Linked DNA regions of Homo sapiens. The protein of the gene in region 2 interacts with the protein of the main gene of each other region in a biochemical or structural test. Each region holds a gene or a part of one and is shown on either strand. Other genes may lie near its edges.

Region 1 (15,159 bases), on a different chromosome or scaffold from region 2:
AGAGCCGGCACAGAGAAGCTGGGGGCATCCTGGGAGGCTTTCTGGAGAAGGTGCTATCAGAACTGGGTCTGGGTCTGAATGATGTCAGGGCAATGTGGGCTTTGAGAGAAGGGGATCCCAGGCAGAAGGGGCAGCAGTGAGCATAGCCACAGGGAGAAAATGGGGTGTGTGGGGGGAGAAACCGGTGCATGTTGCTGGAACATCTGGGAGATGCCAGAGAGAATGGGAAGGCTCTGCAGGGCCTTGTGAGCCTCGAGGGAGGTCAAGGCTGCAGTGAGCTATGATCATACCACTGTACTCCAGCCTAGGTGACAAGGCGAGATCCCCATCTCTAAAAAAATTTTATTTACAAGTAACGCATGGATTTTTGACAGCAAGGGGGTTCAGCGTGCCTTGAACCCCTCGTTGTTCAAGGGCCAAGTGTAGTAAAATAAATGAGACAGGGTCTGTAGTGGGTGCTGCAGGTGCCCCCAGGTCCCACTGGAACCCTTTAGGGAGTCTGTACAGCCCTCCCCCTGTCTCCATGAGCATTGCTAGTGGCTGGCTTCTGGGAGGACAGTTCTGCAGCTTCTGAGACTCACTCCTCCATCTTGTGCACCAGGAGCCAGAGGGGTCTGGGACTCTACCTTTCCAGGGTCCAGAGCCCCCACAGGTCCTCTTGGGATCAAGCTGAGGCTGGAACTCTGTCCACAAGTGTCTCCCTTGCTCAGGTTCTCCCCCTCCTTGATCCTCTTCCCTGACTCCCTTAGCGGAAGCCCCCTGGGAGCACATCCTTAAAACGTCCTAATCCCTTACACACAAGGCCACGTCTTGGGGTTACTTCTGGAAGAACCCTACCTAAGACAGTTTCTTTTTTCCTTGCAGACCTTATCAGAGCTTTCGTCATGCTATGGTGAATAATGATTTCCCGACGGAGGAAAAGTATGCAGTGTTTTGCAAAATTGTTTAACAACGACCACCCCCTTTACCAGAACCTGCCTGAGCTAGTGTTTTCACTGGGCTCCCTGAATGCTGCCTGAACTAATAAAACAGAAAGTTTGAACGAACTGTTCAAGGTTGCCCAGCAGCTCCGAGGGATCGCTTCGCCTCCCTTGAATGCACCCGGGGTTATTGTAGAAAGGGGTGGGAAGTGAGAAGAGCTACATTTGGCCAAAGAAGTGAAAAAGCCTCATTCCAAAGAATTGTAAAATTTATTGTATAAGTATTGCAGCTTTTCAGAATGTCATCATTGCCACTAATGATTACTGATACACAACAAGCAGTTTCTTCAGGCCTGTGGATTGGCATCCAAATACAGAGTCTTACGCAGCGGGGACGTGGGTGCGCGCCCCGCATGCCACGGAAAGCTTACATAAGTTTAACTTGAACAGAGCTTGGGAAATGGGGCTGCAAAGGAGAGCAGTTCCCACGCCAGGAACCAACGTGAAAGCATTGGAATCAGCACAACAGCCATGGAATCAGGCAGGCAGGGGAGGACGGGCTGTGTCCTTCTGAGCTCTATAGTACAGCAAGATTTCAAGCAGTTTCCAGAAAAACAACAACAACGACATTTTCTTTCCTTATCGACGGGATATTTTATGGTTCTGGAAGCTTCGTGTTGCACATAGGAAAAAAAATTTCTCTGAAACGTACAATTCATAGGGACGACCAATGAGGACAGGGAATGAACCCGGCTCTCCCCCAGCCCTGATTTTTGCTACATATGGGGTCCCTTTTCATTCTTTGCAAAAACACTGGGCTTTCTGAGAACACGGACGGTTCTTAGCACAATTTGTGAAATCTGTGTAGAACCGGGCTTTGCAGGGGAGATAATTTTCCTCCTCTGGAGGAAAGGTGGTGATTGACAGGCAGGGAGACAGTGACAAGGCTAGAGAAAGCCACGCTCGGCCTTCTCTGAACCAGGATGGAACGGCAGACCCCTGAAACGAAGCTTGTCCCCTTCCAATCAGCCACTTCTGAGAACCCCCATCTAACTTCCTACTGGAAAAGAGGGCCTCCTCAGGAGCAGTCCAAGAGTTTTCAAAGATAACGTGACAACTACCATCTAGAGGAAAGGGTGCACCCTCAGCAGAGAAGCCGAGAGCTTAACTCTGGTCGTTTCCAGAGACAACCTGCTGGCTGTCTTGGGATGCGCCCAGCCTTTGAGAGGCCACTACCCCATGAACTTCTGCCATCCACTGGACATGAAGCTGAGGACACTGGGCTTCAACACTGAGTTGTCATGAGAGGGACAGGCTCTGTCCTCAAGCCGGCTGAGGGCAGCAACCACTCTCCTCCCCTTTCTCACGCAAAGCCATTCCCACAAATCCAGACCATACCATGAAGCAACGAGACCCAAACAGTTTGGCTCAAGAGGATATGAGGACTGTCTCAGCCTGGCTTTGGGCTGACACCATGCACACACACAAGGTCCACTTCTAGGTTTTCAGCCTAGATGGGAGTCGTGTACAAACCTTGGCAAAAAAAGGTTGGAGGAGCAGGAGTAACCTCACCAAGCTAGGCACCTCCCTGGTAGAGACAGGGTGAGGACGCGCGAGGATGATGGGGTGTCTGAAAAGCAGGAGCCCTTGGTGGACCCTGGGAGGGGATACCAGTCCCAGGTGAGTGAGGCACTGTCCGGGAACGTCCTCACCGAGCGACGGGAGTGTCACTGCTTCTTCAGTAAGGCACTAGAGACGCGTCACATAAAGGAAAGATACGTTTTAATCATCTTTACAAGTGCGTCCTTGTACCTTTCGGGATAACCTGTACTGATTTCTCTGCAGGACCTTTTCAAAGAATCCTCTTCAAGAGAGAAACAAATTTTAGGCTGACGACTTCACGGAGAGGCAGGTTCTGCTGTTGCCAATGAACGAGAACTTTCTACTAGGCTGGCGGCATGCAGAGCCCACGTCTGTCAGCTGCCACCTTCGTAAAGCACACGTTTCACATGCATGAGCTCGAGTGGCTAGAACTTCAAAACTGTGCTCAGGTTTTTGTTTTGGAAGTTATAAAAAAGTTGCTCACAAACAATAGTTATTGCCTTTTATATCTTTTATGTTAGTCTACTAGTCAGCATTCTGCCCAAAATGGAAAGCCACTCCCATGGGAAGGGAGGGGGTAGCAGCTGGGAGTCTGCTCTTCCAGCTGGGGGCCCTCCCACCCCCATGGGGAGGAAAGACGTCAAGCTCCAGCCACTGGCCCCGGTGGGTCCCAAAGCCCCACCCCTCATGCTCTCCTCTGGTCACCTCTATTTACGCTCACATGCCCCTTCCTGTCCTTCACCTGCACGTCACCAGCAGGTCCCGCCAACCCCAAATCTATCTGGTGAAAACCTGGAGAACAAGAGCGGAGTCTAAGAGAGATGTAAATGAAAACACAGATCAACAGACACACCAGAAGGGAAGCGTTGTTTCCGCGGGGAAAGGAGATGGAAAGGGGAAGAGAAGGTGAAGAATTCTGCGCCCGAAGCTCGGGTTGGTGTTTGCTCAACTGCTTTACTCATTTTAACCCTTTCACCTATCCTGGGAGAAACCCAGGCTTGTCACCTTTTCATGTTGGGTTGTTTATTGGCCTCTTAAGTGAGAATTGATCCGTGAAGGGAAACAGACAGGAGGAGGTCAGATTGCGAATACCTGGGGCTTCCTAGGGTCCAGTGCGGCAGTTACCGCACCTGCCTTCACCGGTGAACCTTTAGCCAGCTGAACAACCACCAAAGCGCCCTGCAGAGACAAGTCATCGAGCCCTCTGGCATGTCCCTGGTAGCCCGGGCACCAGCCGCTGCGGCTTGTGAGGGGCACCATGCTCCACCCCACGGGGACCTTCACAGTTGGAAAAAAGAAGAGGAAAAACTAATTCCTTCGGTAACAGTTTATTTTCATTTTTGGGAAAGGCAAAACCACTACCTGGAACTCGGTGCCTCCGTGGTTAACTTTCCTATTTTGCTTGTGATTTAAAGGCTGTTCTGGGTCAGGGGGGAAAAGGTGTCTCCTTCGGTAGGGAATATATAACGTGGTGATAACCTGTCACTAGGCAGAAGCATCCACTCTGCAGGGACAGTGGCCCCTCGGGAAAGCCCGCCGCTCCTGGCCAAGGCCTCTCTGCAGACTCCACGGGGGCTCACCCTCTGCCGTCAGGCGACTCTGAAATTCCGACATTTCTCCCTTAAAGTCTCAACAGACACAAGAGAAGTTTCCATCAAGCAAGCACTGACATATTTATATTAAAAAATAGTGCAAAATCTCAACATTTATATAAATAACTCTAAACCCCTGCTTTGTAATTTTTTTCTTTACAAGGTAATACACACTTTCTGACTTGGCACTCAAAAATTGCCATTTTTTTCCTCTTCTAGTTCAGAAAACAACTTTTTTTTTTAATAGGCCTCTTCTAATACAAAAATACTCCTGCCCTCGCACATACAGTTTCTCTTATCTTATATATATTTATATATATAATATTGCAGATCTTTAAACAAAGGTTTTGTGCAAATATGTCTTTAAAGTTAAGTGAAATTATCATAAACAAAAGAAAATAAGCATTCACGCACGCAGCTCAACTAGAAACAAGAAAGACTACTGTAGAAATTTTTTTTCTTTTGCCTTCAAGACACAGCTCAACAAAGAAACGTGGTTTTTTTTTTTCTTTTTTCTTTTTTTTTTTGCAAGCTCTCTTAGCTTGTGCATTCAGACCAGACATCACATGTAAATATTTATACACAGGGAGGTGGGAGGGGAGGGCCACACGATGCGTTGCTGCGCCCCCCGCCTTCCTCTCACTCCTCTTCTAAGAAGCGCGGAGTGTTCTGCCTTTTCACCTACGCAGCCCCAGCCCGGCCCCCCTGGGGACCCTAGAGAGGGTGTCCTTTCTGTTTATCCTTCTCTTTGCTCCAGATGGCTGCGCTCTCTAGGGGCGCGATGTGTGTGTGGTGGAGCCGGGTCCCCTCCAGCAAGGAGGGCGGCCCACTGCTCTGCTGGTGCTGGAAGGAGGACCCCGGGTAGTGGCCGATGACCTCGCTGTAGGTGGGCGGCGGCCCCTCCATGCGCCCGCCGCTGCCGTAGCACGTGGCGCTGATGCCCGAGTTACTGCTGGGGGGGCAGGGGCCGCCCAGCCTGGCACTATCCATCAGGTCACTGTCGAAGATGGTTCTGTTTGGGGGTGCGCGCACCGACTCCCGGTTCAGTTCCAGCTGCTGCTCGGGGTCCCGAAGCTGGAGGGTGCAGGGGCCCTGGTAGGGTGGGGGCTCCTCCCCGTCTGACAGCGAGATGGTGGGTGGCAGGTCGATCTCGTGCTGCAGGTACGGATAGGTGGGCTGGAAGCGGTGGAAGCGCTCCCGCTGGGCGAAGGGCGGCACGGCCAGGCGGTCGGTGGGCCGAGGCGGGGCGTAGACCTGCGGCTGGAGGAAGCAGAGCGGGAGTGAGGGAGGGCGGCTGTCTCAGGTGGGTTGTCCAGAAGCGATCCTGAGACTGGAGTTCTGCTGCATGGGACTTGGCTCTCTGGGGAAAGGGAGAGGGCAGCAGGGCTGGCGGGGGCGGGAGCCCAGAGCCTGATCCCGCGGGGGCCCTGGCCTGGGGGGCAGCACTGCAGAGCTGCACCGCCCTCCTCCAAACAGTGGCAGCGTCCGTGCTCCCGTGTGCAGAGAGCAGAGAGCTGGGCTGCTCCCTCAGGGGCAGGGAGCAGATGATCTCCGGCAAGGAGGATCCCAGCAGCAAGGGCACTGCAGAGGAGGGCGGAGGGGTGAGCCTTTAGCAGCCCACACTGTTCCAGCCGCAGCGGGAGCAGCCCAGGGTGGGATGGGGGTGTTGGAGGGGAGGCCGAGGGAGGTCTCACCTCTGGGATTCCGTTGCCTGACACTGTGCTCTCCGAGGGCCACAGGCATCCTTCCTGCACAGGAAGAAACGTACAAGCAGGGTCAGTGGGGTGGGCAGGAGGGACAGCAAAGGCTCAACCCAGATTCGACTCTTAGGCCTTTACCCTGGAATCAGCTCTTGAACCCGCCCACCTCTCTGCATCGGAACCAGCTTCCCCAGCCCCTGGCCCTGGGCGCTTTTCCAGGACGTGAGCGCAATCACCTCCTCACTGATCCCTGAGGTGCCCTCTGCTGTCCCCTGAAAATCCAGCCTGACACTTTCCAAAACATACACCCACTTGTGGGGCCCCCTTCTCAAAGCTGCCTGTAGCTTCCCGTGGGCCTCAGTGGCTTCTCACCAGGCTGAACATGGCCTCAGCCCCTCACCCCTGGCCCCACTCCCCTGGGCCTGGGCCCCCTGCTGGCTGTGTGACCTGCGTCAAGTTACTTAATTTCAACGCTGCAGTTTCTGTACCTGAATTACAGTTCTTGAGATTACAGTACTTGCCTCATAGTTGCTCAAGCACTTGCTGAATTTGAATGTAAAAACCACCCGGAGCCCACGTGGCACTCAGGTAGCATGTGAATGTGCTGGGTGTCACCTCCACACTCCCACCAGCCATGCTGACCAGCCCCCTGGGGCCTCAACAAGCTCAGCCCGAGCCCCAGGTCCTTTACACGGCAGGCCAGGCTGCACGGCCCGCTGCTGTCCACTTTCAGTTCCAGCGTCCCCTGCAGACCCTTGGAGACCAGCATCTGAAGGGCCTCTCCCGTGAACCTTGTCATCTGTTGATTCCCTTTCCAGCACCTGTCCTAACTTAATCATTGCTTCTATGCATTTATTTCTTTACAGTCTTTCTCTCCCTTGATCTAGTGAGCCCATCATTACTGATGTCCCAGTTCACAGGTGAAAAACAGGAGAGTTGAGGAAAGTGCCCAAGGCGGCTGCTCTGCCATAAAACAGTGATTCAGCCTCTGGCAAAGGAGGTGTGTGGTTCCACTGTGGCGCCAAGCTCTGGTCTGGGTGCAGGGGCACAGCTGCCACTTCATGAAGCTTATGCCATCTGCTCTGAGGAAAATGAGACCCCATGCCAGGACCAGTTCCTCTGAGTTTCCCCAAATGCCATGACGGTGAGCCCTGGGCCCGGGGAAAGGGATGTCTGTTACTTTTATAGCTTCATTGAAATATAACTGATATGCAAATAAATGGACATATTCAAAGCATACAATTTGGTTCGGGCATATATTTATACCAAGAACCTCTCACCACAATCAAGATAATGAGTATGTCCATCACCTCAAACGTTCCCTTGGGGCAGGTTTTTTGAGGGTTCCCAGGTAGGATACCGCTCACCTGCAGCCTGGGTAGGAACGGCCAGAGGGTGGTAATTTCCCATATGGCCACTAGGAGGCTCTGTGGCCCCTCAAAACTGTCCCGTCAGGACCGCTCCTACCCCTTAAGGAGGTCTTAACTGCCTCGTCTCCTGATTTAGCGAATGGCTCTGATATTCTTCAAGTTGCAAAGCCAGATCCACAGGATCATTCCTGACAGCTCCTCTCCCCACCACCCTTGTTCCACCCACCCTTGATCCCCTCTCACTTCTCCTTCTATTAGACAGTTCTATCCACCTCTCTCCCCAGCATCTGTGCCTAGTGGACAGCAAAGTCCTATGGAACCAGGGCCTCCATGTGCAGACAGTCCATCTGCAGCCTGCAAAAATGCAGATTCTGTAGCAGGAGGGCTGGCGAGCCTGCGTGTCTCACCATCTCCCAGAGGCTGCGAGTGCCGCTGGTCTTTGAGGTCCTTGAGGGGTCTCCCAGGGTCTCCTCCACTCTTGCCCTTCCCCAGGGCCCTTCCTCCTCACAGAAGTGGGAACATCTCCCTCATGCCCCCCACCCCACACCCTGCCACTCCTCTGCTTAAACCGTCTGGGCCCCCCGCTGCCTCCAGGAGAGAAAGTTCCAACCCCTTACCGAGGCCCATACCCCCTAGATGTCCACGGCCGTAGTATAGCTGTTTCCTTTAACGGGTTTTCCTATCTGTATAGCGGGCTGATGACAGCGCCTGCAATGCACCATACAGTGTGTTCTGCAAGGTGCCCAGTGAACACAGACTCTCACGTCTTGCCTTTGGATCTGAGCCCATCCTGGGTCTGGACCAATGGCCCCTCTTTCCTCCCTTTCCTGAAGAACTTTGACTGGCCCCTCAAGCCTCTGCCCAGGTGTGCTAACCCCAGAGCTCTCCGTTAGCCCCCCAGGCGGGTCAGGCACCTCCTCCCATCTCCTCCAGTCCCCTCCTGCACCACAGCCTTTGTCCCTCTGCCCCCGGTGGCCTATTCAGGGGTCTCACTCGCCCTGCAGGAGCTGCTACCGTTTCCCCAGTGCCAGGCGCCGGCGTGCTATGCAGTCAGGGAGTGCTCAGGTTGCTACTTAAGTGCGGAAGTTGCTGGGTGACCCGTGCAAGTCATCTTTGTGGAATTAGGTTCCAAAGTGGCTTGAGAAGTCGGGGGAGGTGGGCCCAGCTTCAGAATTGTCTGGAACCTTCCCCAGCCTCTGGCTATGTCTGCCAGTCACCCCAGGTGGAGGACAAGGACAGGTTCCAATCCTACAGCCACTGCTGACGAGCCCCCTGCTCCCAGCAGCCTCCAACCACTCCCAGACTCCCAGGGCTCGGGGTGGACTCCTCTTCTTTGAAGTGGGCGCACCCAGTCCACCTGCGCCTTCCCCATTTAGATGCTTCTAGACCAAGGGTCTGAAAACTGTTTCCATAAAGAGCCAGAGAGTAAAATATTTTCTGGTTTGTGGGCCGGCGGGTCTCTGTCATACCACTGAACCCTGCTGCTACAGCCAAGCGCAGCTATGGGCAAAACGCACTCGAAAACACTTCATTCACACTCAGAAAAGACCTCATTGACAAAACCAGGCAGCCGCAGTGAGCTGACGCTCAGGCAGCTCCTCCCAGACCCCTCCAGAGTCTTAACACCACGAGGCCAGAACGTAGCTGCCCATTCTTCCCCTGGAGTCCCCAGGAACATCCAAGGGGACGGGATGGCCTTCTATCAAACTTCGAGGACTCAGAGATGTTTCTAAAGAATAAAGAGATGTTCCTAAAAAATTCGGTACCTCCCATGTCCTCAGGAGATACTGAATTCCCCCACAGCCCAGCACAAGGGGCCTGGGGGAATTCGGTATCTCCTGAGGCCATGGGAGTGGACGCTAGGTCTTTGGCTCCCGCTGCTGGCAGATTGTCGCACATTGGCCTGGCCACAGTCTTGTCCCTGCCCCTGGGAAATGGGCCCTTGGTGGGCTGGGTTCTCTCGGGAGCAGGAGACCCACACTGAGGACTGATTGGGGGATAAAGAGGACAAAGGGTCACCCCATCCAAGGCCTGAGTTCCTAGTCTGAGCAGGCCTTGGGCACAAAGACTGGGATTGCCTTTCTGGGTAAACCTGAAGTCTGCGCCACTCCGTGGCTGGGCGGTCACTGCAGTGACGTTCTGCATCATGTCCCGAATACCCTCGGAGCAGCGCCAGGGTGGAAGTGCCATCCCTGGTCGAGGGGCTTGCCTGCACTGGAGCCTCACCCTCAGAGGGCAGATCCTTGCCCAGTGTCACACAACAAGGAGGTGACAAGGCCGAGAAAAGACCTCAGAGCTCAGGGTCTTACCTGAGATGGTGAGGCAGGTGGGTGAGGCACGAGCTCTTGTCTCCATACAGGCAAGAGGGGACCCCCAGGGTCACCCTGAAAAGGGGCCATGGTCGGATAGCCATGCCAGGGGCAGAGCATGGATGGGCTGGGGGGATGTAGACTGGGCCCGGGACAGATAAGAGCTGTATGTGGATCTCTATGGAAGGCCGCGGGGCCCAGGGACTCCTGTCTGGCAGGGGGTCCCCAGGGGAGCTGCCACATTCTGCTTTAGGCCTAGTGAGGCTCCACGTTTACCCAGCCAGGCATCCCGGGCGGCTGTGCAGGCGGCTGGGTAGACAGTGGGAGGAGACTTTCTATTGGCCGAAGGTGTGACGGAATCCTACCCCTTCCTGGCAGCAGGATCCCAGGTGCCGTCTCCTGCTCCACAACAGTGAAGCCCCTGCAGTCGGCCTCTGGGTACGGTACACTCTCCACTAACTGCATCCTCCCCATGACCACGGGCCGCACAGGCCTAGCTTCAACCCACTGTGGAGATGCACACACTGAGGCTCCGAGGGGCAAGGTGAGTCCAGCCTGGAGTTAGTGCCCCTCCAGGGCTGGTGCCTTCTGGAATGTCCAGGCACCGTCACTCTCCCCAGCACTTGAGGGAGGACGGAATAGGCTGTGGGCTCTTCACACCGGCAGTGACAAGCAGTGTGGCCTCCGGCAAATGTTCCACCTCTCTCATCCCCAGTTTCTCCTCTGGAAAGTGGGGTGAACCCCTGAAGTCCCTGATGGCATCCCTGGGCAGACGTAACCAGTGCTTGTTGCTGGAGTGGTAGCAACAGCAAATAAACACGTCGGGGCTTGAGAGCAGCAGGTCTGCAGCACGCCCTCCGGACAGCGTGCTGGGACGCACAGTGGGCCCCGGGTCTGTGGGCCAGGCATTCCCATCAGAGGTCCCAGGGCTGATGCTCCTTGCCCTGGCAACCTGGTGACGCACTGAGGCTGGGGCCTGATGCAAGCAGAGGTGTCCAGACCTGCCAGGGACAGGCCTTCCGGCTAGGGACTGTGGCCAACAGGCTTCTCAGCTGACTTGGCTCAGCCCAGGGACTCTGGGCGCCACCACCAACCCCAGGCGTCCCCAGAAGTGGGGAGGCCACACTCAGTGCTGCCTGTTCTGTGAGTCCTCCCCACACCTGGTGAGCCCCGGCTCAGAGACGTGCCGCAGCCCCAGGGCTGGCCACGTGCCACCTCCTCCCCACAGTTCCCAGCCTGCTCTTTAAACAGCCGCTTCCTGCCCCACGTGGTTGAGTTACACATCCTGGGTGCAGAGATGGAAGCCATTAAGAGATTAACTCTGTGCCGCCCTTTGGTCCACCTGCTGAAGGATACCGAACAGCCGGGCTTCAGGCGGCCGACATGGAGCCGGGAGTTCACCGTCAGAGGCGGGCAAGTTCCCACCGACCCAGATCTGCCCTGTTTGCCCCTGACTTTGTGGAGATTCGAAAGGGAAATTCTTGGGGTTTCCAGAACACCCACCAATGCTCACAACTCTGAGAGATCAACACCCAGGACTGTAATGGAGAGCGGGGTCCCTCCTGCAGGGCTCTGTCCTCCTCACACTCCCGCGCCCACTTCACCTGGTCCTGCACAGCACGGCCTCAAGAGCAGCTCGCCCCAACTTCCTGGCCACGGCCCTCGGCTTCCTTCATCCGTGCACCTGCTCCTGTCTGCGCCCATCCAACTCACCAGCAGCACCCCCTGGGACTGGCTCACAGCCACTTCCCAAACGCAGGGGGAATTTTGCATACCCCGTGTGTGTGCTGGGTAGAGATCTGTCAGGTGGATGGATGGATGGATGGAAGTGCTTTTATAGCCAGTAATGACCAGACCCGTGCTCTGTGCTAAAGCCCTGAATCTCTGGGGAGGTGGATGTGACTGTCAGCCCATTTTACAAATGGGGGATCTGAAGCCCCATTTTGTAGATCAGGGACAGGTCTGAGGGCACGTGGCCAGTACTGGTGGAGATGGGATTAAACTTAGGCCCCGGGACCTGGTGTCCTGTTGCCTCTATGGCTCTCCAAGGCATTGTGACCACATGACCAGATGTCAGCATAGCACGGGCACGAGGGCAGGGCCGCCACCTCCCTTCCGTCTGGGTCAGGGCTGCAGGACTGCAGGCACCTTTCCCACCACTACCCCGGTGGGTAAGAGCCAAATGCCGGCCCCTCGTCTCCACCATCCTGTTGTGTCAGGCCTCTGTGTGGACCCAGAATGCCTTCCTGTGCTGCCTGCCCCAGGTGCCTCCCTGCTTTCAGCCTCATCTCTCTAGGTCTGTCTCCACTCAGCCTCGAGAGATGTGGGTCAAGACGGGGGTCAGCTTGCGCTGCTTGTGAGCCCAGCCCTGCCTCCCTAGCCGAGGGTTCCTCGCAGAGGCTCCCCCAGGTCCCAGTGGTCGCATCTCCTGCATGGCGCTATCACCACTGGGCGTCTCATCTCCCTCCTGGAACGTCAGCTCCATGACAGCAAGGACCTGTGTGCTGCCCTCTCCCCAGGCCCTGCACAGAGCCTGCGACCCGAGGCTGCTCGAGAGTCAGCTGAGTGCGTGAGTGGATCACGAAGCCTCTTCCCAGCCCAGCTCTTCATTCCCCACGTTCCTCCAGCATCTCTGAGGCCCGCCTGGCGGGTGCTTTCCTCCCATTTCAGGGGAGGAAGCTGCTGTCAGGTGGGCTCCCCAGCCCCTGTCTTCCTGCCCTGAATCTGTTTCCTGCAAACGCTGCCATTGGATCCCGTCTGAGTTTTTACAAGGGGCGTCCCACTGCCGCACCCTCAGGCCACAGATGGGATGGCGGGGCACTTACTGAGGACAGGGCATCTTCTCTCCTCCGCCCCTGGCTGTGCCGGCTGATGAAGGACCGTGCAGACAGCTTGTAGTGGCTCAGCAGGCACGTGATCACCACCACCATCACCATCATCACCACCACGATGATGATGATCTGAACAAACTCCAGCTCCGCTGTGGAGACAAAGAGGGACACGTGAGACCCTGGACACCTGCAGGTCGCTGTGCTCAGGGCTCAGCCCTTTTGAGCTTTTTCACCCACCTAGGGGGACGAGAGTGCAACCCAGACTCAGGAAAGCCCCCGCCACTCTCCCGGCAAGGTCACAGGCGATGCCTGGGGCTGGGGTACGTGCAGGGAAGCTGCTCTCACGGCGGAGGAGGGGGTACTGCTGGCTGGGAGAGCACCTCAAAGGTGTCCTGGGACCCAGACACCCCCTCTGTAGGGACTGACCGGAAGGAGGTAACGGGACAGGCAGGAGGAAGGCCCTGCTCTCTGCTCTCAGAGCCTCCTGGAGCCGTTCTGCAGATGCACAGCGTGAGCTGACTGGCAGAAAGGGAGCCCTGCGCACTGGCTCCTGTCGCTGGGCAAAGGCTCGGGCAGACGGTCACAGACCCTTCTTAGGGGCCCAGGGAGGGAGCAGTTGGGAGGAGAAGGGGACCCCTGAGTGCGGAGAGAGGAAGTTGGCACTGAGTTTGGGAGTGAAGCTTTGTGGAATTAAACAAAGAGGAGCTACATGTGAACGTGTGTACACAAACCTATGCACACCTGACACTCCTACACATATGTCAACACACCAACACTCCTACACACACAACACCAACACAAATGCCCCAACACTCCTACACACACAACGCTCCTAAGTACACGTCAACACCAACACACACCCAACACTCCTACACAAATAACACCCCAACACGTACCCCTAACACTCCTACACACAAAACACCCCAACACTCCTACACACACAACACCCCAACACTCCTACACACACGTCAACAACGCTACATACTCCAACACTCCTACACACACGTCAACACCAACACATGACCCAACACTCCTACACAAATAACACCCCAACACGTACCCCTAACACTCCTACACACACAACACCCCAACACTACATACTCCAACACTCCTACACACACATCAACACCAACACATGACCCAACACTCCTACACAAATAACACCCCAACACGTACCCCTAACACTCCTACACACACAACACCCCAACACTCCTCCACACACAACACCCCAACACTCCTACACACACGTCAACAACACTACATACTCCAACACTCCTACACACACGTCAACACCAACACACGACCCAACACTCCTACACACATATCAACACCCCAACACACACCCCTCAACAGTCCCACACCCAAGTCAACATCCCAACACACACTTCCCAACAGACACAAACACACACAGACACAGCGCACCACACGTGCCCACACACACACATCCATCCCAGGACTCACAAACACACGCCACGCTCAACAGGACGGGGGTGTCAGGACCCTCCTCTTGGTGAAAAGGCCTCAGAAAACCCACATTCCAGATGGCTGCGGATGTTGCCATTCGCATTTTCTAAGGTTGGGTTTTTTTGTTTTTTCTTTTTTGGTTTTTGATTTGTTTTTCCCCTAGAAGGCGGAAAAACCCTCAAGTGCTGGAATAGGAAGAAGGTTATTTTGATCCTGCCTGAGCCGGGCAGTTTCTGCTGACTCAAGCGGGTCTGTGCCGAAGCGGCCTCGGCAGCTGGCCGAGCACGGTGCCAGCAGAGCCCCCAGCAATGGGCAAGACGCCGGGTCCCTTGGAGTTGACACGGCAGAGTGGGCACCAGCCGGCAGCGTCCGGGGCCAAAGCTCCTCCAGCTTCGCCCTGCCCAGGACACCCTGCCCAAGGTGTGCAGGAATGTGACTCCCCAGACCCCGGCTGGCATGGGGGCAAGGAGGACTCCCCAGGGCTCCCTGGCACTAACAAGCAATTAGCCAGGCTCCCTGGGGGCCCCAGTTCAAGCCCAGTGCCACTGACTCAGTTCCTCCTCCTCCCAGGACCGAGGAACCAAAGCCGGGGGAGGGGGATCGGGGTGGGCAGGTGTCAGGTGGCAACTGGAGAAAAAACAGGCCGTGCAGAGCCGATGCCAGGCGCTCGGGCCATCAGACAGCCCAGGCAAGCACACTCCAAACCCGGGGGGCCCAGCCATCTCCTGCCACCAGCCTCGCTCTCCCCAAGGCAGGAAAGCAGCCCATCCTAGGTGGGAATGTCACTGTCTGTGAAGTGGCAGACGCCTCTCCACACAGAAGCACTCCCACACCTGTGTCCACTGCCACTCCTTCTTCCCCAACAGGTTTTCCAGAACTTCCCCGTCTCGGGCACTTTATGCATCTGTGCCACCCTCAGCGCGCCATTGTCTACACTGCTACTGAGCCAGTGTTTCTCAGCTGGGGCCGCGTCTGCACCCAGGGCTCAGCGTGCCACTGTCTACACTGCTACTGAGCCCGTGTTTCTCAGCTGGGGCCGCATCTGCACCCAGGGCTCAGCGCGCCATTGTCTACACTGCTAATGAGCCAGTGTTTCTCAGCTGGGGCCACGTCTGCACCCAGGGAACATGTGGCGATGTCTGGAGCCATTTTTGGTTGTCACAACTGGGGGGTACTCCTGGCATGGAGTGGGTGGAGGCCAGGGGCTGTGGTAACCGTCCTGCACCGACAGGACTGTCCCCCATGACAAAGAATGATCCAATCCAGTCGGTCATGCTGTGGGCTGAGCACACCTAAGAACGGGCGTTTTTATTATCATCCCCATTTCACGGGTGAGGAGACACGGGCTCAGAGGGAAAAGTGATTGCCTCG
Region 2 (15,159 bases):
GTAAATAGGAATAGTACATGTGAGAAATGCTGAAAATATGAAAGTGTAAATAGCAAAACATGAATAGAAGCTAAATGTGGATTTTTTTCTACCTGCATGTCATACCAGAACCAGATAATACTATCGAACTTGGAATCTTAAATTTAAAATTAAAGAACTGTCAGTACTGCTACAGACTGTGATGAGATCAGGGAATGCATTGCTGCACAAGAGGTACAGACCAAAAATACTAGTGGTTAAGGAAGATTTAAACAAATTATAGGTTCGTAGAGGACAGGTATCATCTCTGAAAAAATATTCTGGACAGAATAGAACAGAATTGGAATTCTTCTATACTGCCCTTCTCTCTGCATTTCTACTTCCCTTTTCTCTAGTGAGCATCTAGCACTTTATATTCATTCCAGTCCAAATATTTTACATCCCAAGGTATAGAAATTACATATAAATGTGATCACAGAACCACTGTCAGTGACATTTGAGGAACCCTAGAGAACGGGATGGGAATGATGTCAGATATCTGGAGAAAGCCTGCTGACTCCTACTCAAAGTCAATTAAGTTTTTCCTAAATCCATGGACTAGGTAAGGTCTCCTTGTTATATATGCTCATAACTTGATATTGTGTTTCTGTAGCCCTTATCACAGTTGTCACTACTTACTATTTAATCTCATTTCTTCTCTTGATTGCAAGCTGCTCGTGGACAGTGTTCTCTCTCTTTTGTCATTATTATAGCCCTAATTTCTAGCATTGAGTCTGGCACATAGTAGTCACTCACTGAAGTCTGTGAATGAATAAATTTTTAGAATGCTGAATGTGGAAATTATAACTCATGAGCCTACTGTCAATCCCCTGGAACATTATAGGGCAGGTTACTAAAAATGTGATCTGTGAGCATTTTCAAAGGAAGTGGGAATGAACAAACGTTCATTGATTTTTATTTGGTACCTGCTCTTTTAGCTTTGAAGATCTTGCCCCTCCTGCCTTGGTTTTTCCTTTCATATTTCTTTGGTGTACTATTGCAATTTTGAACTAGTAATCATATTCATTTTCTTCAATATTGTATAATTTTTCTAGCCTGAGGTTTCTTTCCTTGCTGGGAACAGTCTTGCTAAGATGATAAAGTTCAAATTATGATCTGTAGTTCTATAAACCTTGACCCAAAGTACATCATCTTGACCTTTCTGTGTTCATCTTCTTTTCCTCTTCTAGTGTTGCATTCTTTCCTTTACATATTGGAGACCATGTCTTTATTGAGGAAGATTGTGTGGTCAACGCAGCACAGATTGGTTCCTATGTTCATGTTGGGAAGAACTGTGTGATTGTGAGTATGATGACTTGGCTGGCAAAGCAGCTTCACTTTCCCTTCAGCTCCCATCCCTCACTTCGGTGGGACCCTGTTTCTGTGACTAAGCAGGGTAGCAGTGGTTTCCAGTCTTCCCAGAGTTGGATTTTTCTTGACAGATATGGAATTTTTTCAGCTGGGTGCGGTGGCTCATGCCTGTAATCCCAGCTTTTTGGGAGGTTGAAGTGGGCAGATCACTTGAGGTCAGGAGTTTGAGACCAGTCTGGCCAACATGGCAAAACCCTGTCTCTACAAAAATACAAAAATTAGCTGGGCATGGTGGCGCATGCCTGTAGTCCCAGCTACTCGGGAGGCTGAGGCAGGAAAATCACTTGAACCCAGGAGGCGGAGGTTGCAATGAGCCAAGATTGCACCACTGCTTTCCAGTCTGGGCAACAAAACGAGACACTGTCTTATAAATAAATAAATAAATAAATAAATAAATAAATAAAAAGATTTGGAATATTTTCTAGACATTAATACGGGCAAGCGTTTATCAAGTCTCCTCTATATGATGTTAAACTCTTTCCTTTGATGATTTCATTTAATCCTTACAACCATTCAGATGTGTTAGGTGTTATCCCTATTTGCAGATGAGAAGACTGAGGACCTTAAATATTAAGGGATTTGGGGCCAGGTGTGGTGACTGTAGCCTATAATCCCAGCACTTTGCGAGGCCAAGGCAGGAGGATCCCTTGAGCCCAGGAGTTCAAGACCAGCCTGGGCAACAAAGCAAGACCCTTTCTCTTAAAAAAAAAAAAAACCCAAAAGTTAAGGGATTTGATAGGGCTAGAAAGCAGTAGACCTGGGATTTAAACCCAGGCAATATGATTATTAGCCATGCTGCTATATGGCCTACTTATTGCCTTACTTCACGGAGCTTACAGTCTAATGGGAGTAAGGAAATCTGAAGGGTGAGTTGAAACTGGGGGAAGACAGGCATTTCAGGAAAGAGATTCACATGCGTAAGGAAGGGTTCAAGTCATCAAAGGGCATTTACATGTAATTCAGGGTGCAAGCGGGCCCCTTGCTCAGCAGAATCTGTAGGACCCTGGTCCATTGGAGCCTAGGAATAGGTTGATTTAACCCAACCAAGGCTTAACAAGGTTGGATTTCCTGTGATTTCTTAGATGATGAGCTTGATTTCAGTTGGGATTTATGAGAACCATGTTTAGGGAAAGTGTTTTCTGCATTTTAGATTTGTACTCCAGACTAGATTCTAGGAAAAGCCAAGACTCTGTTTCTTTAATGACCATTCCCGTTAATATGGAGCCAGCTCTCTGCCCTGGATAAGACTCAGACCCTGAAATATCAAAAAACTTGCAGAAACCAAACAGTTCACATTCCAGGAGCTATGAGGGTACAGCAAAGGTGGACAGAAAGTCTTTGGGACAAGGGGAAAGTTAGTAAAGTTCATCTCTCCCCTCACCCTAATTGCTTGACAAAAGCTAGCCTTCCAGCTGGGGGTTTCTGATATTTTCCTTAGCAAAGTGAAGATATCACCCCAGTAGCCTAGTCATATAACCCTGTCGTTTATCCTCAGAGCGAAATGTCTGAAAGGTTGAATCCAAATTCTATTCCCAGTGCTTAGGAAATTCTAATCCTATTGTCAGGTGCTCTTGTTTTTATGCCACTTTTTAATACATCACTTCATGATATAGTCATTGTTCCATATTGGCGGTACTCGCTGAGCCTTGACAAATACTCGATCTCAGGAGAGATTCTTTTAGAATTCTAGAATCTCAGCACTGGAAGTAACTCTTTTAGTCCAGCCGTCCCCATGACACATAGCTCCTTCCTATAACATCCCATGTGATAGTCTTAATTTCCGTTTGGATATGTGAAGATGTAGGTGTTCATCAGAATTGCTCAGATGCCTGAAGGAAAAGCTTAACAAGCAATATTTATAGGCACTGTTACTGTACTATGAGTTTTACATTTATTCTCTCTATTCTTGACAACCTCCCTGCAGATTTGGTTTTCCATCCTGTTTCATAGATGAGGAAACCAAGGCTCCAAGATGCTAACTTACTTGCACAGGATATATAGGTAGCTGTAGTATTAGCAGCACGGCTGCAGTTGTTAACTCCTTGGAAAGCTCTCTAGGGAAGAATAAAGAAGTAGTTTCAGGCCAGGCGCAGTGGCTCATGCCTGTAATCCCAGCACTTTGGGAGGCCGAGGCAGGAGGATCACTTGAGGCCAGGAGTTTAAGACCAGCCTGGCCAACATGGTGAAACCCCGTCTCTACTAAAAATACAAAAAAATTAACTGGGCATGGTAGCACATGCCTGTAATCCCAGCTACTTGGGAGGCTGAAACAGGAGAATCGCTTGAACCCAGGAGGTGGAGGTTGCAGTGAGCCGAGATCGCGCCACTGCACTCCAGCCTGGGCAACAGAGTGAGACTCTGTCCCCCGCCACCAAAAAAAAAAGAAGTTTCAGCTTTTACCTCCTCAGCTATTACCAGTACATTCATGCCTAAGAAATACCTACATTTTAAATGTTTAATTTGATTGATCAGTCTACCCAGACAGCTTCTGAAACCCAGTTAAGTATTATTTCTCTAAGTGGGCAAAATGGCCAACCAGTGGACAGAGCAGGTGCCTTCAGGCTGCATGGTGGCTGGTATACACAGTGAAAATATCCCATCAGCTAGTCTTCTTTTCCAGGGCCCTTTGTCTGTGGATCCCTCCATGGGACTATATCATGCCTTATGTAGCACATTGGGTGTCCTTTTACTCAGTGCCTCATGAACTTAGTCTGAGTTAGTAGGAGCTTAGTCATGACAGGAATTCTTAGGGTTTATGTTAATTTGAGGTCACCAGGGAAGATAGTTGCCCTATTTTTGAAATTGCCACTAGCAGGTAACCCACGGAAGATAACTTTACAAGGAAGAACGAAGAACTATAGTCATAATGTGCTTTTGAGCTAAAGATGTTGCTGAGTATTCTCATAGCTGTTATCCACCTAGCTGGAGAGAGATCAGCCACTTGGGAAATTCAGAGCCACTTAGGAAATTCACATGCTTTCATAAGAAGTTCATTTAGCAATCTACCTTTTCCTAGAAAAACATATGATTTAAGTGTTTAATAATGGGGAAAAATTTAAACACAAGCAAATCAATCATGTTCTTTGCTAAAATCTGAGGTCTGGACTGGTTAGCATTGTCCTGGTATTTGTAAAGATTTCCACATTCTCAGTCAGGTATATTTTCTGATTGTCTAGCCAGGATACCAGTGAACTAACAGGCCCTGATGTAAATGCAGTCAGAATGATCAAAACTTTCATTTCCTCAGCAAGGAGTCTAAGATACAGCTGTAAACTGTACACAGAAGCCCCATGAAACAGATGAGTCTCTCAGACCTTATTTCTTGCTCTCTGAATGCCGTGGATCATGGCAGAATTGAAAAGTGGTGACAGTGGTTAAAGTCAGGGATGAGGTTCAAACATCTACATGACTATCACTCACCAGTGGGAGAACAAATGAACTAATAGCTTCATATCCAAATGAATTTTTCAGGGTTTTTCCAGTTTGAATTGACAAAAGAGCAAACCAACCAACCAACCTTAAGCTGGTGGATGTGGAGTGGAATGGGTGGTGAATATAAACCAAGAGTACAGGAGTAGATCTTAATGTCACGGCCAAATGGCTCCAGGCATTCAGCCCATGTTGTAAGAATTAGTCTCCATCTCTGTGCTGCTTTCCTCTGGGAGGTTCACTCCCAGGCAGGTTCTTCCTTCATGGAAATAAGATGCCTATTCCAGTCTTCCAGCCTATCCTCTGGAAACCCCAGTGGGAAGTGCTGCTTTCCCCAGTAGTCCCAGCAAAAGCCCTGAGGTTGGGGTCCATCAGACTAATTGGGGTCATATGCTGACCTGTTATTGTTTCCAGGCTTGGGGTTTGGTGTGTGGGCTGGGGGGTGAAGCACATGGATGAGATGGGGATGGGAGGGTTACCGAGGAAAATACAGGTTCTGTTACCAGAAGAAAGGGGAATGGATGCTGGACAAGCAAAAGCACAAATGTCCACTAAATCAAAGGGAAAATTCAACAGAGCTCATGGAAGACTGAAATTCAGTCTGTAATGTCTGAGACAGTTTGTCCTGCCTCTAGCATACAGCCTTCCCCCCGAAATGTACACAAACACACACTCTCACAACCTTGCTGCCTCCTTCTCGTCAGGTACCACCTGAAGCAGGAAGTTGCAACCAACCCTCTTGTCACCGTCCCTGGCTATTACATGGTATCATGAATGGGGAAAATAGAAAGGAGCCTTTCACACAGTAGACTGATCCATTTCCTATTAACAAGATTTTAATTTCAGGGGCGCCGATGTGTGTTGAAAGACTGCTGCAAAATTCTTGACAACACAGTATTACCTCCAGAAACTGTGGTTCCACCATTCACTGTCTTCTCAGGCTGCCCAGGTAACCTTGGCTGTTGATTAATTTTATTTTAACTTCCTAAAACTCAGTTGTATTTTCCATCGCAAAAGTAATGCTTACGATTCCTATCTCTGGCAATATGTTGATAGAGCTAACTTAGAAATTCACCTGTACAAAGTACCTAGAAATGCTACCTAACATATAACAAGCATCTGTTTAAATGCATAATTGGGTTCACCAGAAAATAAGGAAATTATGAAGGGCCAAACACAAAGAGGAAACTAAGCCCAAGCTGTGAGATTGCACGGGTTAATGCTGTCTTCATAATAGAGTGATTTGAGGGGTGATACTCATGTCGGGATGGAAATAAAGCCTTGGATCCACACATGGCAGAGAGATCCTCAAATACTCTTAAAGGATTCCCTCTCAAGGAAAAGTCGATGTAAAACAAATCTGCTGCCAACACAGGGAATGTACAAGAAAGCATTTCTTGCCTGGCCTGGACTCTGGGTAGAAAAAGTCTGTCTAGAGAATTTTAGTACTGGGCTTACCCTCACATTGGTCATGGGTTTAATTTGTACATTCCACATGGCCCAGGAATTCCCAGACTGAAAAGTTAGCATAAACCATGGTCTAAGACCAGCAATACCCTGGGGATACCTGAGAGGGGCAAATATTAATACATTATCTCTGGACCTTGGCTGATAGAATGCTCACAAGTAAAGCCCATCAGGAGCCCGGAGTTCCAAATTATAAAGCTTGAGGAAACAAAAGTGATACGTACTTCTCTCAGAAAACTTGGAAAACACTGAAAAGCAGAAGGAAGGAGAAAACCTCACATTCCCTTAGCCCTACCCCAAGACAGTATCTTCTTCTCCATGTTGTTTTACACAGCTGAAATCATGTAGCATATACAGAGGCACGTCATAAATTCACAGATGGAAAATAATATGAACAGAGAGATTTGACAGTATATGATACCTACCACTGAGTGGTTTAATTGTTTTTCCAATTAAAAAATAAATCTCATCTCTCAGATCATTGAATCTGAGTTTCTAAGATGAACAAAATCATCACTCAGATTCTTCGGGGAGGCATTTGGCCATTCTACCGTGTCATGCATCTCTGCTTTTGCAGAGGAGGAAGGAGAGACTTTTGTTTAGTAATTTCTCCATATTGGGGTCCTGCTGTGAAAAAGTTTAGCTGTTCTTAGCAAGCACTGGACCAGAACAGCCTCAGCGATTATTTAAGTGATTGTCAGACATGCATCTGATTGAGGTGAGAAGGATATTGCCAGAGAAATATCTTAACTTCTTGTAACTTCTTCAAGCTCCTTAGAGCTGGGTCTTTCTTTCCCCAGGACTCTTCTCAGGGGAGCTCCCGGAGTGCACTCAGGAGCTGATGATTGACGTCACCAAGAGCTACTACCAGAAGTTTTTGCCCCTGACGCAAGTCTAGCATCTCTGCCTCATGTCTTGAATCTGCTTGAGCTCTAAGATGAACCTGGGGACAAAGTGAGCCAGTCAGCACCTACAAAGAGCTTTTGTGTCTTTGACATCTACCACCCTCCTCCTTTTAAAAAATTTCTTTAGAATTTCTCAATCTTCAAGGCTCTAAGTGCTTAAGAATTCACTAACAGACAGACCATCTGGAGGAGCTGTCTTCAAATGCTGTGCTTACACCTTATCTATGAACAGTCACTTTGTACCATTATCTGTGGAACACAGAATCATCTGTTCCCAACACTCCAGCCCCTTGGTCCTGTGGATGGCTGGATCCCGCCTGAAACGGACCTGCAGAGCAGCAGCACCCTTCCGGTGTGGAGGCTATGTAGCTGGTGCGCTGCTCACGGCCATTCACTGCCCATGCTGAGCGCCTCTCACACAGGTAATGCCCAGCTTTTCTGCTGCTAACACATTTGGCCAGTTGTTGCAGTTGCTCATCATCTTGGGAAAGGTGTTTGTGACTTTTCAGAGCCCAGATTCCTGTTGTCTATTAAAACTTGAAGGGAGGGGTGAATAGTGTTTCTCTCTTCTTCCCAAAATGACCTTAGCTGTCCTAGGATAGTTAGTAAAAGACTTTTTAGCATTTTGACCTAGGGCCTTTGGCTTTCACTAAAAGTGGGGACCTCAGTATCCCAGATTGTAATTTTGCCAAGTGTTAGATTTGAGTCTCTCATGTGGATGCATTAGTCAGGTGGTTACTCCTTGCTTCAAGGTACTTACCTTATTTCATTGAAGACACCGCATTTGTGAACTCTTGCTTCCTGGCCTAGAACCATTCAGCCTACCCTGTATTTGCCATAAACTCCACAATTCACACCAAAATGTCTGTACTTAGAGCTAATTCGCATATATACAGGAAGGGCTCTTAGAATCAGTTTGTGGGCACAGAGCCTCAGGAGTAAATGAAGTTACTAGGGCTGTTCTTACCATCTCCTTCTGGCCAAATAGCACAACATTTCCTCGTTCTGCTCTGACCTCTTAGCTTAGAAGGAAGATTCAGAAGTGAGGGGCTAAGAAGGTTGTCCTTGCCTAATGCTCTGATCTGTAAGTGAATAGGGCAGAACAGTTCAGCCTTGAGGTTAGAATTTAGCAGGAGCTATCCTGACTTAATATCCAGTTGTGGGGTTTGCAAAACAAAACAGCTGTATGTAATCATTGCCACTAGTTCCATCTAGAACTCCTTTCTAGTTTGTTATTTTTAAAATGTTTATACATAAAACCACCAAAATACATAGCTTCGACAAGATGGAAGTTTATTTCTCTCTCCCATAACAGTGCAGTGATAGTCAGCTGGTCCAGGCCAGGCAAGGGGCTGGTCCATGATGTCATCAGGCACCCAGGTTCCTACTGTCTTGCCATGTGGCCACAGTTAGCAACAAAGGAGGCTGTAAATTTAGTTTCTACTTGGGCAGCCAAAACTCTGAGGAAGGAGATTCTGCTAGTAAAAAGGAGTGGGGGAAGAATGGCCATTGGGAGACAACAAGCAGACTCAACCAGGCCTCTTTGTTGGCTTCCTTTCCTCCTGCTGCACATGAGCCTTCGCCGTGCATTTGGAGCCATGACAGCTGATAGCTCCAGACCTGCATCCTCCTAGCTTGGGGGCTCTGAATGAAAGGTTTCTTCCCTTCCAGTTCGAATTTGGAAACTCCCAAAGTTCTCAATGGTTTGTTGTGAGTTCCATGTCCTCTTGGATCAGTCACTGTGGCCATGCATGTTTGGCCACATGATTAATCCAGTCTGGGTCATGACCTTTTCTTCATCCAAAACAAGGTGATGGGAAGACAAAAACAATAGCTACTACAAACAATAGGAGTTTATAATTATGTGCTGATGTATTCGAAGATGTGTTGACAGTCGTGAGTGTGTATCCTAGGAAAGGCGAGCTGGACTCTGTCTCCATGGTGGCTCTCACCCCAGGGACCTAGGAACAGCCTGTCACCACACAATTACTTTTATAACCCTGGAGATGAAAATCTCCTTGTCCTCAAAATACTTCCAGAAGAACAACCAGATGGGAAGGACCTTGGTTGGGACTCTTTCCAGTTCACTTGGGGCAGAGGGAATTTAATGGCTCACGTAGCTGAAAAGGATGGGCTAGATTGGGCTTCAGGCTGCATCCCAGGACTCCAAACAGGGATCTGTCTCTTTGGCTCTCAGCTCTGCTTTCATTTGAGTTGGCTTTATTCTTGGGCTTCACAGTGTGGCCCCACAGCACCAGTTATTGATAAAAAGAGCTCCCCTTTGCTGACAGAACTGCTGGATTTGGTTCTCATTGGTCCAGACGAGGAAGGTATCCAGCCTCAAGTCATCATTGTGGCCAGGAAGATGGAATACACCAAATGGACAGGCCTGGCATGTACCCACAGAGACTGAGAGTTGGTGCTGGTGGTTGTGGTGGCAGATGATATTACCTGAAGAAGGGACGAATGGGTGCTGGGCAGGACAAAGCATCAGCTGTCCAGTTCAGGCCTCTCCTCTTTCCCTGGTGTCTTCATTTTCCTCCGTCTCCCTGCTGTCCCTTACCCTCTGCCCAATCTCTCATTACTCCTGGTCTTGGGAGTTGCCTTCTGAGGATACTCCACTGGGGGTACCTGAGCCTGGATTAGAGGGCAGGGGGAGGATATTGCCTAGCCAAAGTGGGTGTTCAATAAAGAACCATTTGGAGATGGTCTTCTGTCTGGAACTGCTTCCTTTTTGTTTTATTATTTTTCCCCAGATGAGCTGACTGGGCCATGGAACTGCATCCTTATGGTTCCCATAGCACCTTACCGAGGCGCCCTTATCAATAGAGTTTTAGTTATGTACCTGTGTTCTTGTCTGAACCCCTACTAACTGTGAGCTCCTGAGGAGTCAGGCCTGAGTCTGTGGGTCATCTAGCACATCCTTAATAGAATGATTGCCTGGATGTGACCACCCTCACCCCCAACCCTCACACACCCTGCCAGCATGCCTCAGACCTTACCCCAGCTCAAGATAAGTCTCAGATTGCAGGATACCTGCTGCAGGGAACAAAGGTGAATGATTGTCTTGTGAGCCTCCTGTTGACTGATTCTGTTTTACATGGCTGCACAGAGCCCTTGTGGTTATTTGGGGTTGGGGTGGTGGCTTCTGTATTAGTCACTTCTGCATGAACCATTTCACTCAGGATCTGAGGCCACAGTTCCTTTCTTAGTCACTGATACATCTGGCAGACTTGAAATTAATCAGACAAACATTGTTCATAGTTAACATATCCTTGGAAGTTTCTCAGCTATAAGGAAGAGGTCTTGGTGGCTAGGGAGGCCTTTCTCTGTATCCTGTTCTATCCAGTGAGAGCCTAGAGGGTGCTGCCCAGCCATATTCTGGCTAGCCTCAGCGGTTCTCCTGAAAAAAAATTGGCATCTGACAACCTGGATGGTGACTATAGGTAGTCAAATCCAGCTGGCTGGTCTCCTGGGGGTTAGCTTCCATGGAGCTGCAAGTCCCCTGAAATGATACTGGCAGTGTTGGGACAGCGTGTCCGAAGGCCTGGTTTTTTCAGAACTGGTCTCAGCAAAATGTCTCGCCAACTTCTACAGTTCCCATAAGTACATGATAACTGAAACACTTCTAGAGCCCCCCAGCAATGGGCTTGTGCTTTTAGTAGAATATGTGCTTGCTTCCATTTAGGGGTAAGAAGGTGGGCCCCTCACCATATGCTGCACAGAGAAGAGAGACACCATCACTCATTTATTCATTTAACAAGTGCTTTCCAAGCCACTACTAGGTGCCAAGCACTTCCTAGGTCCTGGGGATACAGTGGAGACTAAGATGGAGCCAGTTCTTTCTCATAGGGATCTCACAGCTTAGTGAGTGAGAAAGCCAAAGAGTCAAAATACAGAGAGGGTCTGAGGGGCCCATTTTGAGAGCCATCATAGTGGTGAGGAGTGTGAGTGCTAGAGTCAGGCTGATCAAATCCCAGCCTGCCATTGGCTAGCCTTGTGACTTTGAGCAAGTTATCTTACTTCGTGGAACCTCAGGTTTCTCATCCATAAAATGGGGAAGTTGGATAGGGTATTATGATGATTGAAATGCATTTATACATGTAAAGCATAAGTACTGGCTCAGGGTGAGCACTCAATAAACGGCAGTTTATTAGGCACTTTTATTAGGAAGTGATACACCTTGAGCAAAACCCCTTAGAGTATAAGGCATAGCATTCTTACATATTTTTAAAATTTAAAATAAAATTTAAAACATCTTGCCCTTTATAATCAGTCCGCCACAAACAAGAGATGGAGAAATCACCCTTCCTTGTTTTGTATCTATGGGGTGCAAACATTTAATCCTCCCAACTGTCAAAAAAGTGAGAGTTTCACAGCCTGTTTTACAGCAGAGGAAACTGATATTCAGAGAGGTTAAGTAAATTTGCCCAATGCCACACATCTAATAAATGGCTGAGCTGGAATCAAGGCCAGCTCTTACTTGGCTGCAAAATCCATGTTTTATGCAGCTCCTCCACTATCTTGGCCTCCAAGGCAGCTGGCTTTGAACACTACCCTTGCAGCCCAGTCAGCCAATCCCTTGCTCTCCTGAAGCTTTTGCTGGTGGGCCAGCCCCACCTGCTTTCCTTGTGCACTCTGACTTGGACCCTGAAGTGAGAAGAGTTGGCACAGGACATCTTACTTCCCTGAAAACAGTACCTGGACTTTTCTGTATCTTCACATCCATTGGGCATTGGGCAAATGGGTCATGCAGATGAAAACCATCCAAGATAAGAGACATGGGAGTGAAATTCACACCCACTCTGGCTTTCATACCATGGGTCTGAACATTAGCCCATGGTGTTTCTTGGCCATACTGACCTGTGCCATTTCAGCTGCATTCATCTCAGTTGGTGTTGTCTGCTGGCTGCTCTTTCTGATTTCCCACAGGAGCAGTAAGAACCTGAGGAAGAGTAGGGTCAGAGGAGTCTGGGAGAATGAGGAAATATGAGAGCCCCAGGAACTGAAAAGGCCTGTGAGAGACTCTGAGCTTCCTGGGAACAGGTATAGGTTCTTTTTATTTCAATAATAACAGAAACAACTGTCAAAACCATGTGCCTGTACTATTTGGAGTGCTGTCCTTGCAGAATCTCATTATAAGAACCTTAGGAAATAGGCACATCATCTCCTGGATAGAATCCTAGGAAATGGGCACTATAATGGGCACTTTATCCCATTTTATAAACATGGAAATTGAGGCACAGAGAGATTAAGTACTTTCCCAAGGTCATACAGCTAGTGATGGAGGAGCTAGCATTTGAACCCGGAGTTTTTAGTCTATTGAGTTTAACCGACAGATCATACTGTGTTTTGGTAGGGAGGGAGGGAGGAAGCAAGCAAGTGAACAAATGAGTCTGGGATTTAGGACTTGCCAGACAAACAAGGCCCAAGAGGCAAGTGTGCAGGTGGGTGTAGTTGGGAGTCAGCAGAGTTGGGTTGGAATTCAAGCTTTGCCACCTGCTGGCTATAAACCTTGGTTGGGTAAGTAACCCAAGGTAAATGAGATCATCTCTGTAAAACTCTTAGCCTTGTGCCTGGCACATAGTAAATGCTTAATAAGGGTTCACTGTTAGTATTACTGTTACTGATAACATACAAATAGATTGTATTAATGGACCATAATTGCAACTGTATAAAACAAATTCCATGTTTGGCCAGGCGCAGTGGCTCAAGCCTGTAATCCCATCACTTCGGGAGGCCGAGGTGGGCAGATCACGAGGTCAGGAGATCAAGACCATCCTGGCTAACACAGTGAAACCCCATCTCTACTAAAAATACAAAAAAATTAGCCAGGCATGGTGGCGGGTGCCTGTATTCCCAGCTACTTGGGAGGCTGAGGCAGGAGAATGGCGCGAACCCAGGGGGCGGAGCTTGCAGTGAGCTGTAATTGTGCCACTGCACTCCAGCCTGGGCGACAGAGCGAGACTCCGTCTCAAAAAAAAAAAAAAAAACCACAACAACAACAACAAAAATTCCATGTTGACAAGGATGGGAATATGAGAACATGGAAACAGCTATGAAAAGACATAAGAGAATTAGGAGGATTTTCTTTAATATATCATTTTTTAAAAAAAAACTTGCTTGTATTTGTTTATTTTTTAAATAGAGACAGGGTTTTACCATGTTGCCCAGACTAGTCTTGAACTCCTGGGCTCAAGCGATCTTGGCCTCCCTAAGTGCTGGGATTACAGTCATGAGCCACTGTGCCCCGCCATTTTTTAATAAACCTTTCTAATGGAACAAGTAAAACACATGCAGTGGATGCTCAGCAGGCCTTGAGTGTGTGAATGAAAAATATTTGAACTTGTTTTTACTGGTTGATTTCATTGCTTAAAAAACATACCTTAGCTGGACGCAGTGGCGTGCGCCTGTAGTCCCAGCTACTCATCTCTTAAAAAAAAAGTTTTATGCTTGTTAATTTCATAAATGCTAGAGGGATCACCCTAATCAAATAAAGCTACTCAAAAATAAAATATGAAAGGTGTTAGTGGGATACAGCTTTCTAGTTTTTTGCCACTAGTGGATAGGTTGGAATTTAAATTCTTCGGATATTGGAACCAGAACAGGCTGTAACTGATTATTTTTGCTGTGATTCGTGCTTACTGGAGCCTCGGGAAAGAGGGAGACAACATGTAAAGAGAAGCAATCTGTTTGGAAAATGAAAATACAGTTAAATTGCTAATGAACCCTTGTCAAAATCAAATGTCTCCCCTTAGAGGCTGATGATTGTCTAGTCTAATATGCATTTTTTTTGAGTGGGTCAATTGGACTCTAAGACCAACAAGATAAAAAGGCAGCCTTGCATGTCACTTGGACCACAGCTGTCTGGCCATGCAGCATGCCTTCACTGCTGCTGAAGAAAAGCAGCTGCTTGTTGAGAATCTCAAATTCTCAGATCCTAATTGCCTGGCCCTGACTCTAAGCTGAAACCTGCTACTGTCTGCCTTGAGCTGTTTTAGCCTCAACACGAGCTATGCTGAACTGAAAGCAGGCACAGGCTCAATGACCAGGACTCAGACGTTGGGGCCGTTGGAGATTAAGGACCCCCTCCGTGGAGCGCTAAACTATGAAAACGTCCTGGAACCTGGCTGAAAAGGGCTTATTCTCTAATGGGACCATCTAAGATCAAGCTGCTGATAGGCTCTTTGTCTCTAATACAGAGGCTAATTGCATTCCTAACTTCTAATATTTGCCAAACGCTCCAAGCTGGGGAAGGGCACATCGCAAGGACTATGACCTCTCCTCCTGCTTTTGACAGACCAGACTCAAACCTTCTCTGGGGCTTCTCTCACTGCTGTTGACTTGTTGCATTCAGCTTTTGGGATTAGTTGCAGCTTGCAACAGTGGACTGACAGCCTGACTCTACTTCCCTCACTTTTCTCCCAGCACACACAGCTTAGTAAGGTAGGTGGATTATTAAAACGTAGCTGTCCCCAGAAAGGTATTAGGCTTTTCTAGTCTGCTCATTGAATAATCAGGACAAAAGGGGTAGAAGATTATGTAAACACATTTTGAAATTTTTAAAAATTCAGGGTTTCATCCTTTATTAGTTTGCTAAGGATACCATAACAAAGTACCACAAACTGAGTGACTTACACAATAGAAACTTATTTTCCTGCAGTTCTGGAGGCTGAAAGTCCAGGACAAGGTGTCGACAGCTTTAGATTCTTCTGAGGCCTCTCTGCTTGGCTTGCAGATGGCTGCCTTCTTACTGTGTCCTTGTATGGTCCCTCTGTCTGGGTGTCTGTGTCCTAATCTTCTCTTTTAATAAGGATACCACTCAGGTTGGATTAGGGCCCATCCTAACAATCCCATTTTAACTTAGTTACCTCTTCAGGGCCTATCTTCAAATATACTCACATTTTGAGGTACAGGTAGATGGTTAGGGCTTCAGCATGAATTTTTGTGGGGACATAATTCAACCCTC

What was found.
Region 1: the proteins of DCTN5 (region 2) and PMEPA1 form a complex in vitro, tested with the Homo sapiens proteins (one study listed by BioGRID).

The regions. Positions count from the first base shown.
Region 1 is NC_000020.11:57,647,225-57,662,383, forward strand, and holds the end of PMEPA1 (protein TMEPAI), read right to left. Parts: intron 12,474-15,159; coding exon 12,319-12,473; intron 5,863-12,318; coding exon 5,809-5,862; intron 5,375-5,808; coding exon 4,829-5,374; 3' UTR 1,172-4,828; downstream 1-1,171. UniProt on the Homo sapiens protein: Functions as a negative regulator of TGF-beta signaling and thereby probably plays a role in cell proliferation, differentiation, apoptosis, motility, extracellular matrix production and immunosuppression.
Region 2 is NC_000016.10:23,659,962-23,675,120, forward strand, and holds part of DCTN5 (dynactin subunit 5), read left to right. Parts: intron 1-1,208; coding exon 1,209-1,320; intron 1,321-5,664; coding exon 5,665-5,767; intron 5,768-7,055; coding exon of another isoform or gene 7,056-7,063; exon of another isoform or gene 7,064-7,085; coding exon 7,086-7,183; 3' UTR 7,184-15,159. UniProt on the Homo sapiens protein: Part of the dynactin complex that activates the molecular motor dynein for ultra-processive transport along microtubules.